Linked DNA regions of Homo sapiens: region 1 is linked to region 2. Evidence: fine-mapped expression QTL. A gene starts in region 2. The other region holds a variant in brackets. All regions are shown on one strand. Distances are between the middles of the regions. Region 1 overlaps LINC02520 (long intergenic non-protein coding RNA 2520). Region 2 holds the start of CMTR1 (cap methyltransferase 1).

What was found. PIP is the estimated chance that this variant, and not a neighbour inherited with it, causes the effect. A credible set is the group of variants that fine-mapping cannot tell apart.
Region 1: its variant is the best candidate, but not a certain one, in a credible set for the expression of CMTR1 in blood mononuclear cells (TOPMed, PIP 0.79).

What each region holds. Positions count from the first base shown.
Region 1 is chr6:37,523,499-37,528,870 of GRCh38, forward strand. All of the region lies in intron 1 of LINC02520 (long intergenic non-protein coding RNA 2520), which reads left to right. Among named protein-coding and RNA genes, the nearest start is that of LINC02520, 19 kb to the left of the region's middle. The variant A/T (reference allele first, on the strand shown) is at 2,752.
Region 2 is chr6:37,429,899-37,435,270 of GRCh38, forward strand. It overlaps CMTR1 (cap methyltransferase 1), which reads left to right and starts at 3,323. Exons shown (of 24, transcript NM_015050.3): 1 at 3,323-3,479. It overlaps LOC107986531 (a long non-coding RNA gene), which reads right to left and starts at 3,325. Exons shown (of 2, transcript NR_171666.1): 1 at 3,153-3,325; 2 at 2,330-3,037. RefSeq lists enhancers at 3,005-3,506, 3,199-3,478 and a silencer at 3,479-3,668.

The DNA.
Region 1 (5,372 bases), 94 kb after region 2:
AGCCTGGGCAACACAGTGAGAGTCCGTCTCAAAAAAAAAAAAAAAAAAAAGAAACTGAGCAGAGACAGAAGTGGTCACGCCACTCAGGCAAGATTAAATTCTGAATGAGAACCTGGTTGGCTGCCTTCCTGTTGAGGGGAAGAGGAGGCCAGGGTTGGGTGGGCACCGCCACCAATCCAGATTCTAATTTAGTGAGTTTAAATGCACCTTTAAAATGCATACAGGCCCAAACAAAACTCATCTGTCATGGTTTTCAGGGTGAGAAAGATCCATCTATCCACCACCGATATGTATCTGAGTGTGTGTGTGGGGATGTGTGTGTGTGTGTGTGTGTGTGTGTGTGTGTGTATATATATATATTTTAAACGTATATTTTTTTCTTCCCCCAAAGTAAGTATCAATTCTCAGTGACTGTAAACAGGCCATATGAATGGTCTCAGGCATCCCAACTTCTGATTTCAACCATGCAGATAGGACTCTGAAATGACATTCCGCTATGGTTTGGGGCTGGTTCGTCATTGCTGATGTGTGTGTGTATGTGTGTATGTATGTGTGTGTGTGTGTGTGTGTTCTTGTGTGCGTGTTGGAATGGGTCAGTGAGAGGCACAGGTACCGGAAAGGTGGAAATAAAAATGGAGTCTTTCCACCTTCTGGGAGCTGCCATGGCCACAGAGTGAATGTGTGCGTCAGTTGTGGGTCTTGGAGGCTGGCCAGGGGAGAGGGAGCTTCGACTTGCCTGGAGTAGGGAGCTGCAGGGACCCCGCTTTGCAGGCCCCTGGACCCGCACCCCCCCTCCATACTGCAGCTTTGTCCCACCTGGGGAGGCTTGTTGCTAATCCCGCTGCCTGGTGAGTGCTAGGTCCGTGAGCGGCTGAGAGATATGTTTATTTCCTTTTAATATTGTTCAGGGTTCAATTTACCCAGTGGCATGTGAATAAATAAATAAGAAAACCAGACCTTTGACGGGGGAAATATGGAGCTTTCCTCCTATATTTCTGAGTAATATCTCAAAACTTTTGTGACTCATGAGGGCCCGCAGTGTTTGGCTAAGGAAAAGAAAAGAAAACATGGAAAAGAAAAACATCTCGTTTCCTATATTTGTCAACAGTTTTATAGCAAGTGGAGAATATTCCATATAATGTGGCCCCATGTACCATCTGTGCCGACACCAGGTTCCCCGAGGTCTGTGGCTGTGTCTGAACTCAGGGAAGTATAACCTGTATAATTGTATCTCTGTAAAGGGGACTGTTTTCTACTGCCCAGAACCCATTACCCACCAAATCTCCTGACACTAATCTCCTAGGCCTCGAAGATCTAGGCGTGGGGGTGGGGAGTTATTGCACAAAAATCTTTCAAATGCTCTGGCTCAGAACATCGCAGCAGTTAAGAAAAGAAAAAAAAAGGCAAATGAGGGAGAAGCTGTTACAGGCGAATGAGGTAGTCGGAGGCAAGAGCAGTGAGGTGAGGATGACAACTATACATTTGTCATCTGTGTACCTGTAAGACTTTGCTGAGACCCTACTGTGTGCAAGGCATTGAGCAAGGCATGAGGAGAGCAGAGCAGATAGCAATAACAGCAGCAACAATGCCATCATGGTAATAGTCATAATAAAGTGGCTACCTCCTAGGTACTTACTAGGAGCTGGTCGCGGTGCTAGACTGAGTGGCTCAGAGTTGAGCGGCTGAGCTTCTTGTTCTCAGGGAGTTTGCAATCTGGTGGAGGAGGAGGGATTGGGCTCAAGCGCCTGCTGAAAAATCCAAGGAGAGTTCTGGTCTTGAAGGATAGTTTAGACAACCTCAATTAGGGAATTTTTAGAAATTTTGAAATTCAGATTCTGATGAATGCTTGCAATTTCAACACTGTCTTTCTAAGGGACTAAGGGCCAAAGTGACCAGGAACACTGATAATTTAGGCTTTCATGGGGTAATCTGCCAAATTTATCACAGATGGGATGGGCAAAGGAGTGAGGAGAGGAGGGGGCTGGGGAAATATGACTGGGTGAAAAGGGGACATTCAGAGCTCAGAGAAAGGCGGGGGCAGGAAGAGAAGGGGGTGAGGAGACATCTGACCATGTGGCTGTGAAATGAATCAGGCCTGTGGCATGCAGATAACAGAGCTGGGGGATCCCAAGTCCCCCAGCCCAGGGTGCAGTTTTGGGAAAGGAACAGATGGGGGCAGTTGGCTGGCCAGGAGGCGGGTGCAGTGTTAACTGAGGTCTTCTGCATCCTGAAAGGAATCAGTGAAGGTGACTGAGAGTGAAATTGCTCCTTCAGTTGCAGGACAGAGTTTGAGGATGTGCTTCCCAAGGAGGGAGCAGGGAGAGGCAGGGGTCTGAGTGGAAACCAAGCGGTGGGTGGTGGGTGGAGGGAGATGGCGGGGAAATGCTGTCCTCAGGGGGCTCCCTGTCTCAGGCCTGAGTGGTGGATGACAATGAAGAGCCAGTTGGGGAGCTGTCCACACCTCGGGTGCTGAGATGAATTCCTAGAAATAGCCCTTTCTGGTCCATAGAAGTTGAGATCCTCCTACACAGTGGTTCTCAAAGCGCAGTCCCTGGGCCAGCAGCATCAGAACCAGCTAGAAACCTGCTAAAAATGCAAATTCTCAGGCCCACCCCAGGTTTACTGAATCAGAATCTGTGTGGCAGGTGGGGGGAGGTGGTGCACAGCAATCTTTTTTTGTTTTTTGGGTTTTTTTTTGAGACAGAGTCTTGCTCTGTCACAGGCTGGAGTACAGTGACATGATCTCTGCTC[A/T]CTGCAACCTCCGCCTCCGGGGTTCAAGCAATTCTCCTGTCTCAGCCTCCCGAGTAGCTGGGACTACAGGTGCGCACCACCACGCCCGTCTAATTTTTGTATTTTTAGTAGAGACGGGGTTTCACCATATTGGTCAGGCTGGTCTTGAACTCCTGACCTCAGGTGATCTGCCCGCCTTGGCCTCCCAAAGTGCTGGGATTACAGGTGTGAGCCACCGTGCCCGGCCAGCAATCTGTTTTTAACAAGCCCTTCAGGAGATTCTGATGCCACTCACTTTGGAGAGCCACTGTTCTCAATAGCTCTTCCTGTCCCCAATCCCAGGGCCCCAGTCCTTCCTCTGCAGTGCACACCCTGCTCTGCCAGGCACTCAACCCCTGCTTCTGAAAGCACCAGAAGTTCGTTTTCTCATCCATGCTGAGCTCCACGAGGGAGGGCAATATCTTACTCAACTCTAAACTGCAAGTGCCCAGCACAGACCCTGGCACACAGTAGGTATGCAGGAAATCTTGTTAATAAGCAGATGGAAGGATGGATGGATGAATGCTAGAGCGGCAGCCAATGTGGTCTTTTAAAAACATAAATGAAATCAGGTCACTTTCTGGCTTAAAACTCTCCAAAGTCTCCCAGCATCTTTAGAATGAAATCCAACTCCTTATTATGGCTGATGGCCCTTGGCCTGGACCTTGTGGCCTCGTCACTCTAATTTATCCTGCTGTCCCCCTCAGCTGCTGTTCTTTGTCTCCCAAATACCCCCAAGTTCATTCCCGCCTCAAGCCTTTGCACACTGTACCCTCTTCCTGGAGTGCTCTTTACTCATATTGCCACACAATGGGCTTTTCTCCCTTTTCTCAGGGCTTGACACCTCTTCATAGAGGCCTTCCCTGACTACCCACCTAAAGCATCACCTCCCACCCTGTTCTATTGCCCTGTTGGTTGGGTCAGTTGTTTTCCTCTTCATGGCATGAGTACAGGTGCCAAAAGTGTACTGGGAGGGATGTCCCCCATTTCCATATGTCCCTCCCAATGTCCTTCCACAGAAAAGAAAAATAACCCTTCATATACACAACTGACATTGCCTCAATTTTTGAAAACCTTCCTGTATTTGGATTTTAAGTAGAATCATTGTGTGTACTTAGCAGACTCAGCTTTAAGATGAACTCCCTTCTAATCATCTCGTTGCCTCCGAGTCCCCTTTGGATAGGACTACTGGAACCGTCATGGACCAAGCCCCCTTAATCCTACCATGGTGGGAGTTATGGACCTGGGGTGAGAGATATTGGCCACTTGGAGAGGAAACCAGTTATGGGCCAAGACTAACATGTTCAGAGAAATGAGGGAAGGATGAGTGCTTTGAGACTGGAGTGCAAGTTGCATTCTGGTTAATCAGAGAAGGCATTTACAATGCACTAGGAAGATTTTGAAGGGATGAAGACAACTAAGATAACCATAATAATAGTTATCCTGTATAGTGCTTGACTCCATGCCAAGCACTGTTCTAAAAGCTTTGCTCATATTCATTTAATCATAAGAACCCTCTGAGATGGGTTCTGTTTTCACCCTCATTTTACAGGCATGGAAACTGAGGCACAGAGAGGTGAAGTAGCCTCTGCAAAGCTCCCCACTAGTAAGAGGTTGAGGCAGGATTCCAACCCAGGAAATCTGGTTTGACTCTTCCCCATCACCCTCTACGGCTTCTCGGATAAAGACATCAGCAGTACCCTAAGGTCTTTTCAGTTTCCCAAGCCTGTCCCCATACTCCAGCTGGCTCTCAGTGCCTCTGAGGTGGCCAGGGTAGGCGTTTCATCTCCGTTTCCTTTTTTTTGTTTTGTTTTGAGATGGAGTCTTGCTCTGTTGCCCAGGCTGGAGTGCAGTGGCATAATATCAGCTCACCGCAACCTCCGCCTCCTGGGTTCGAGTGATTCTCCTGCCTCAGCCTCCCAAGTAGCTGGGATTACAGGCACCTGCCACCACGTCCGGCTAATTTTTGTATTTTTAGTAGAGACAGGGTTTCATCATCTTGGCCAGGCTGGTCTTGAACTCCTGACCTTGTGATTCACCCACCTCGGCCTCCCAAAGTGCTGGGATTACAGGCATGAGCCACCGCGCCCAGCTCATCTCCGTTTTCTAGGTGAGGGTGCCAAAGCTGGTTAAGCAAACCACCCGAGGCTCCACAAAGAGGAAGAGGCAGAGTAGGGCACAAAGCCCTGCCACCAAGCCTGCCTGCCTGTAGGAAAGCCTTCGGGGTCCCTGTGCCCCAACCATAGAACCCGTGCCCTGGCCGCAGGAAAATAGAGGACATTTGGGGAATGACAGTGAAAAGCCGGCAGGCAGGCGGCGTCCTGCTGCTCTCCCCCAGCCCACTCTCTCCCAGCCGTAAGATATATATAGTGCCAATGGAGAAACAACACGATTCGGGTGTTTGTCTGTAGCCCCTTCTGCAGATCCATCACAGAGCAGTGCTTGGTGCAAGATTTTGCAAACAGCTTGAGATTACTGAATTAATTAGAATAAAATTAATCAAAACACCCACCACAAAGGAACCTGAGCGTGTGGAGTGTGACTTGGGTGAGGGAGGAGGCACAGCAGAGAGAGGGCATGGCAGGCTGGACTGGCTTCCTGCC
Region 2 (5,372 bases):
CTGCACTCCAGCCTGGATGACAGATCAAGACTCTGTCTCAAAAAATAATAAAAAAAAAAAAAGAATATACTCTCAAGTTAGGTTACAGTTTGTTTACATATTATTAGATTATGTTATGTATGGAGGCAGATTTAAGCCAAATGTAATTTAACAGTGTACAGTTCAGCAGTGTTAACTATATTCGCATTGTTGTGCAAAATATGTGCATTTTCGGTTGCCTTTTAGTACAAGTTGGGAGAAAACGAAGGGGAAAAAAATTGGGAAACTCACTCTTGATTTGACAGTTCTTTGACTTCTGGTTTCCTTTCTCCATATTCCTGCCATTTACTTTATACTTTACCATTTACTTTTCAGAATCCTCAGATAGTTGTTCCATGCATTCTGTCTAAGGTTTTAAATTACATTCAGTGGGAGAAACAGAATGAAATGTGCTGTTTCCATTTTGACAGGAATTGGAAATTTCTGTTTTTCTTTTTATTCTTGGGTATTTTATATATATATGTGTGTGTGTGTATATATATATATAAGAGATAAGTCATTTGTCAGATATATGTATTGTGAATCTTTTCCTCTCATTCTGTGGTTTGATTATTCAATGTCTTAATGGTGTCTTTTGTTGAGTAGAAGCCTTTTATTTTGATGAACTCCATTTTATCATTATTTTTCTTTCGATTAATGCTCCCTGGGTCCCATGTAAAAAAAAATCTTTGTCTACCCTAAGTCTGCAAAAATATTTTCCTGTGTTTTCTGTTAAAAGCTTTATCATTTTAGATTTTATGCTTAGGTCTATGATGTATCTTAATTTGCATTTGGCATAAAGTAAGAATCAAAGTGGGCCGAGCACGTTGGCTCACGCCTGTAATCCCAGTCCTTTGGGAGGCTGAGGTGGGCGGATCACGAGGTCAGGAGATCAAGACCATCCTGGCTAACACGGTGAAACCCCATCTCTATTAAAAATACAAAAAATTAGCCGGGCGTGGTGGCGGGCGCCTGTAGTCCCAGCTACTCGGCAGGCTGAGGCAGGAGAATGGCGTGAACCTGGAGGTGGTGCTTGCAGTGAGCGGAGATTGTGCCACTGCACTCCAGCCTGGGTGACAGAGCAAGACTCCGTCTCAAAAAAAAAAAAAAAAAAAAAAAGATTCAAAGTTCGTGTTTCCCTATATATTTATCTGTTTTTTCCAGCACTATTCATTGGGTATACTCATATACATTAAAAAATAAAATTTAACTTTAACTTGACTATATTTTGAATGCATTCTCTCATTATTTAATGCTTTACATAAAAATTAAATCATTAAATTTGCTAAATATGTTAACTTTTTCAATATAACTCATTTCCTATACCTTATTTTATACCCTTCAAATTATTATTTTGAGAATGGGTCCATAAGCTCTACAAGATTACCAAAAGTGTTCATGTCATAATGCATGCTAAGAAGCCTCAGTGAGGTGGAAAGAAGGACACTAAACTTTAGAACATAGAGAACTAGGTAAATACCTGTTTGCTGCTTCCTAGCTCTGTAATCTTGAACATATCACTCAACCTTCATTCATATTCCACACTTCCACAGATTCAGTAAATATCTATTGAGCACTGACCACCAGCCTCTGTTAAATCTTGTGAATTTAATACAGACAGACAATCTTTCCTGTACAGAGTTTACAGCTGAGTCGGGGAGGCAGATGAGTCCACAGGCCATTATACAACACCGTGGTAAGTGCTTTGATAGTGGAAGGACAGAGTGCTTTAGGAGCTCAGAGGTGGGTCTCCCAACCTAGATTTGTGACATCAGGAAATATTTCGAGATAGGGACACTAAAGTGACTCCTGAGGGATAAATGGACATTAGCCCAGCAAAGAGGAGAAGCATGATCCAGGCAGGGGGCTGAACTCTTAAGAGACATGGCATGTTTTGTTTTGTTGTGTTCTGTTTTTGAGATGGAGTCTGGCTCTGTCGCCCAGGCTGGAGTGCAGTGGTGCAATCTCTGCTCACTGCAACCTCTGCTTCCCAGGTTCAAGCGATTTTCCTGACTTACCCTACTGAGTAGCTGGGACTATAGGTGCGCACCACCACACCCAGCTACTTTTTTTGTATCTTCAGTAGAGACGGGATTTCACCATGTTGGCCAGGCTGGTCTCGAACTCCTGACCTCAGGTGATCCATCCGCCTCAGCCTCCCCACGTGCTGGGATTACAGGTGTGAGCCACCGCGCCCGGCGGAGACACGGCATATTTGATAAACTGAGAAGAGTCAGCATGGGGAGAACTAAGGGATAGCAGTACAAGGCATACCTGAAGAAGGGGTCATGCTGGAGGGTCTCAGAGGCCATTTTAAGGACATTAGCTTTATTCTAAGAGCAATGGGACATCATTGATGGATTTTAATCATTGTTGGGTTGTGACAGGATCAGGTTTAATTAATCAATTTTAAATTCCCTTCTTTTCACAGGTGTTGAAAATTATAAAAATCACTTTGGTTTTGTGAAGAACGCATTAGAGGGATCACAACTGGAGACAGTCACGGGAGTTTGGAGTTACTGGAGAAATTCTGCCGAGAGGGGGTAAGTGCATGAATTGTGGCAATGGGGATGGGGGTGAATGGATGGATTTGAAAGACAATTAGGAGGTAAGCGCAATTAAGTGTATGAGAAACTTTGGGGTATGAAGAAGAGGGAGATTCCTCAGATTTCTAGCTGGACCAACAGGATGGATGGCAGCGCCCTTCACCAGGAAAAAAGTGAGCTGATGGAAGAACATAAGGTGAAATTTGAATTCATGGGGTTTGAGGTGACTGAGTGAGGATGTCCAACAGACGTTTGGCCATATTGGCCTGAAAATCAGAAGAGAGGTTTGAGATGGAGAGCCAACTGTGCCCATATGGTAAGATGCTACAGGCGGCATTCCTTCTGTCCTCCCGTCCTTCGTTCAAAATCTGTTGAGATGTCCCATAGGCTGGATGTTGGGGATACAGCAGGGAACAAGAACACTGCGTTCGCTCAACCAGTTTACCATCTACCTCTCTGAACTTGTTCTTAGTCTGTAAAATGAAGATAATGATAAGATTAAGTAAGATGAGGTCGTGTGAGGGCACCTAGCACTTACAATTTTTGTATTGGTTTCTCTTCCTCAGAGCCAAAGGAGGAGATAGTTACTTTTGCTTTTGCAGCCTTTTCCGGGCGGCTTTTCCGCGCAGGCGCCCCTGGACCTCCCAGGTTGAGAGGTGGAGCGGGCCAAACCTCAGCTGCCTTTCCCGGGGCCGGGACCCGGCCGGGGGAGGACCGAGGCGCGGCGCTGTCCGTGACGTCATCAGGCTGCGCTGCCCGCAGTACTGGACCCGAGCGCGACGGTGCGGCTGGCGGACCCGGGCTGGCTTGTGGGGAAACGAAACTGAGGGAGGAGGCGGCGGCTCTGGCAGCGGCGGCGACAGTGTCGGCCTGACCCCCCCTCCGCTCCCCGGCAGCTCGCTCTCTCCCCTCAGCGTGAGTGCCGACGCGCGGCCCGGGGGGAGCAAGCGGGCGGGCGCGCGGGCTCAGCATCCTTCTCCCCTCCACCGCCGCCTGGGCCCCCCGCCCGCGGTTATGGGTCTCCTCGCCTTCTGGCCCCTTATGTCTTCCCTCCTCCTCCCACCCCCAACGCCGGCTCCCTGGAGCCCGAGCTGCCGCTGACACACGTCTCTGCGCACACATTCACACGCTCATGTTATCTTCAAATGAAGGGACTGGCCGGGAGACATGGGAGCTTATCTCTTCTCTCTGTGATTAGGGGTGGCAGTGCCAAACCGAGGCCCAGGGAGAGAAGACTGCAGAGGGGATTTGAACCCCTTCTGTGCGGAAGCAGCAGGTAGAACCAGGCCGCTTGCCTTCCGCTTAGAAGTTCCCTGCCAGAGCATTCTGCTGGCATGTGTGGGTCACTTGAGCAGGGCACTGGTTAGCTGTGTGGCCTTCACCTCTGTGGCCGCAGTCTTTTCCCGTGGAAGATGATAGGGTTGGATGAGATGATTTGGAAGGCCCAAATCTAAGGTGATGTGGTTTGGGGAGGAGCATCCGCCTCTCCTGCCTTTCACACAGCTGTTCAACAGTCCGCTTTGAGTTTGCTGTACTTCCAGTCTCCCCCCGAGTCACTTAAGAATTAAAAGCTTTTAGCGCTTGCAATGGCTAGAAGCAAGCTCTGTGATGAGCCTTCCTTTATCTCACCCTGGGGGCCTTTTGGGGGTATTTAAGACTACGGCTTAAAGTGAAATGTGGCTTAGCTTGGTCTTGCTTTCTGTTTGCTCAGTGTCTCCGGTTCTTCCCTGGGACAGCCCCTGCCTGTATCTAGTAAGAGGCTGCTTTCTCAGGAAGGTGGCGGTTGTGCATTGGGTTGATTGGCTCTTCCTTGAGTTGGAGAGAACTGAAACATGTGATCCAGGGTTTTACGAGGTTGGGAGCATCAGTGACACTTTTGGGTTTCAATACTTTCTTGCTGTACCTCGCCTTCCCTAAGGATTGTTTCCCAGCTTGTCGCCCACCCTGTATTGAGTCCTCTTTTCTGAGTTCTCTACAGCCAATCAGTTGTGTGTAAGCCACACTGTATTCACTACTTCTCTTGCTTGCTCTTTAACTTGATAATTCGTTAAGATTTCAGGGTTTCATAATCACTTCATTCCATCTTATTTTTTTCTCGTGCTTATCTCTCATGTACCTAACCATGGGGATGGATGATTGATGGTGGCATGGTGCCTGTTTCTTTCTTTTTTGTTTTTTTGAGACGGAGTCTTGCTCTGTCGCCCAGGGTGGAGTGCAGTGGTGTGATCTCGGCTCACTGCAACCTCCGCCTCAGCAATTCAAGCGGTTCTCCTGAGTAGCTGGGACTACAGGCATGTGCCACCACCCGGCTAATTTTTGTGTTTTTTTTACTAGAGATGGGGTTTCACCATGTTGGCCAGGCTGGTCTTGAACTCCTGACCTCAGGTGATCCGCCCACCTCTTTCTCCCAAAGTGCTGGGATTACAGGCGTGAGCCACCGCGCCCAGCTGGTTTCCACTCTTTTTTGTGGAGGTGGATTTCTGTCCTTAAAATTGTTGTTTTCGTAACTGAGTTCTGTGGTATAGCTACCTCCAGTCCCAATAACTTTCCCGCTCTTGTGTTTCCTCGGTCTTAAGTCATTTCACTGCTTCCATTCCCTACTCTGCTTAAAAACTTTCCCAATTCTTTCATGTTTTCAAACATTATGAAGTAAACCAAAACCAGTATTTTTATGATATTATGTAATTTCTTAATTGTTTTGGTAAAATAATGCTGATGAAACAGTCATTCTGGGATGGTCCCTTCACCTTGGGAATATTGGTTAATATTTATTCGGTTTTATAGTTCATTTTCAGTGTACATTGTCAT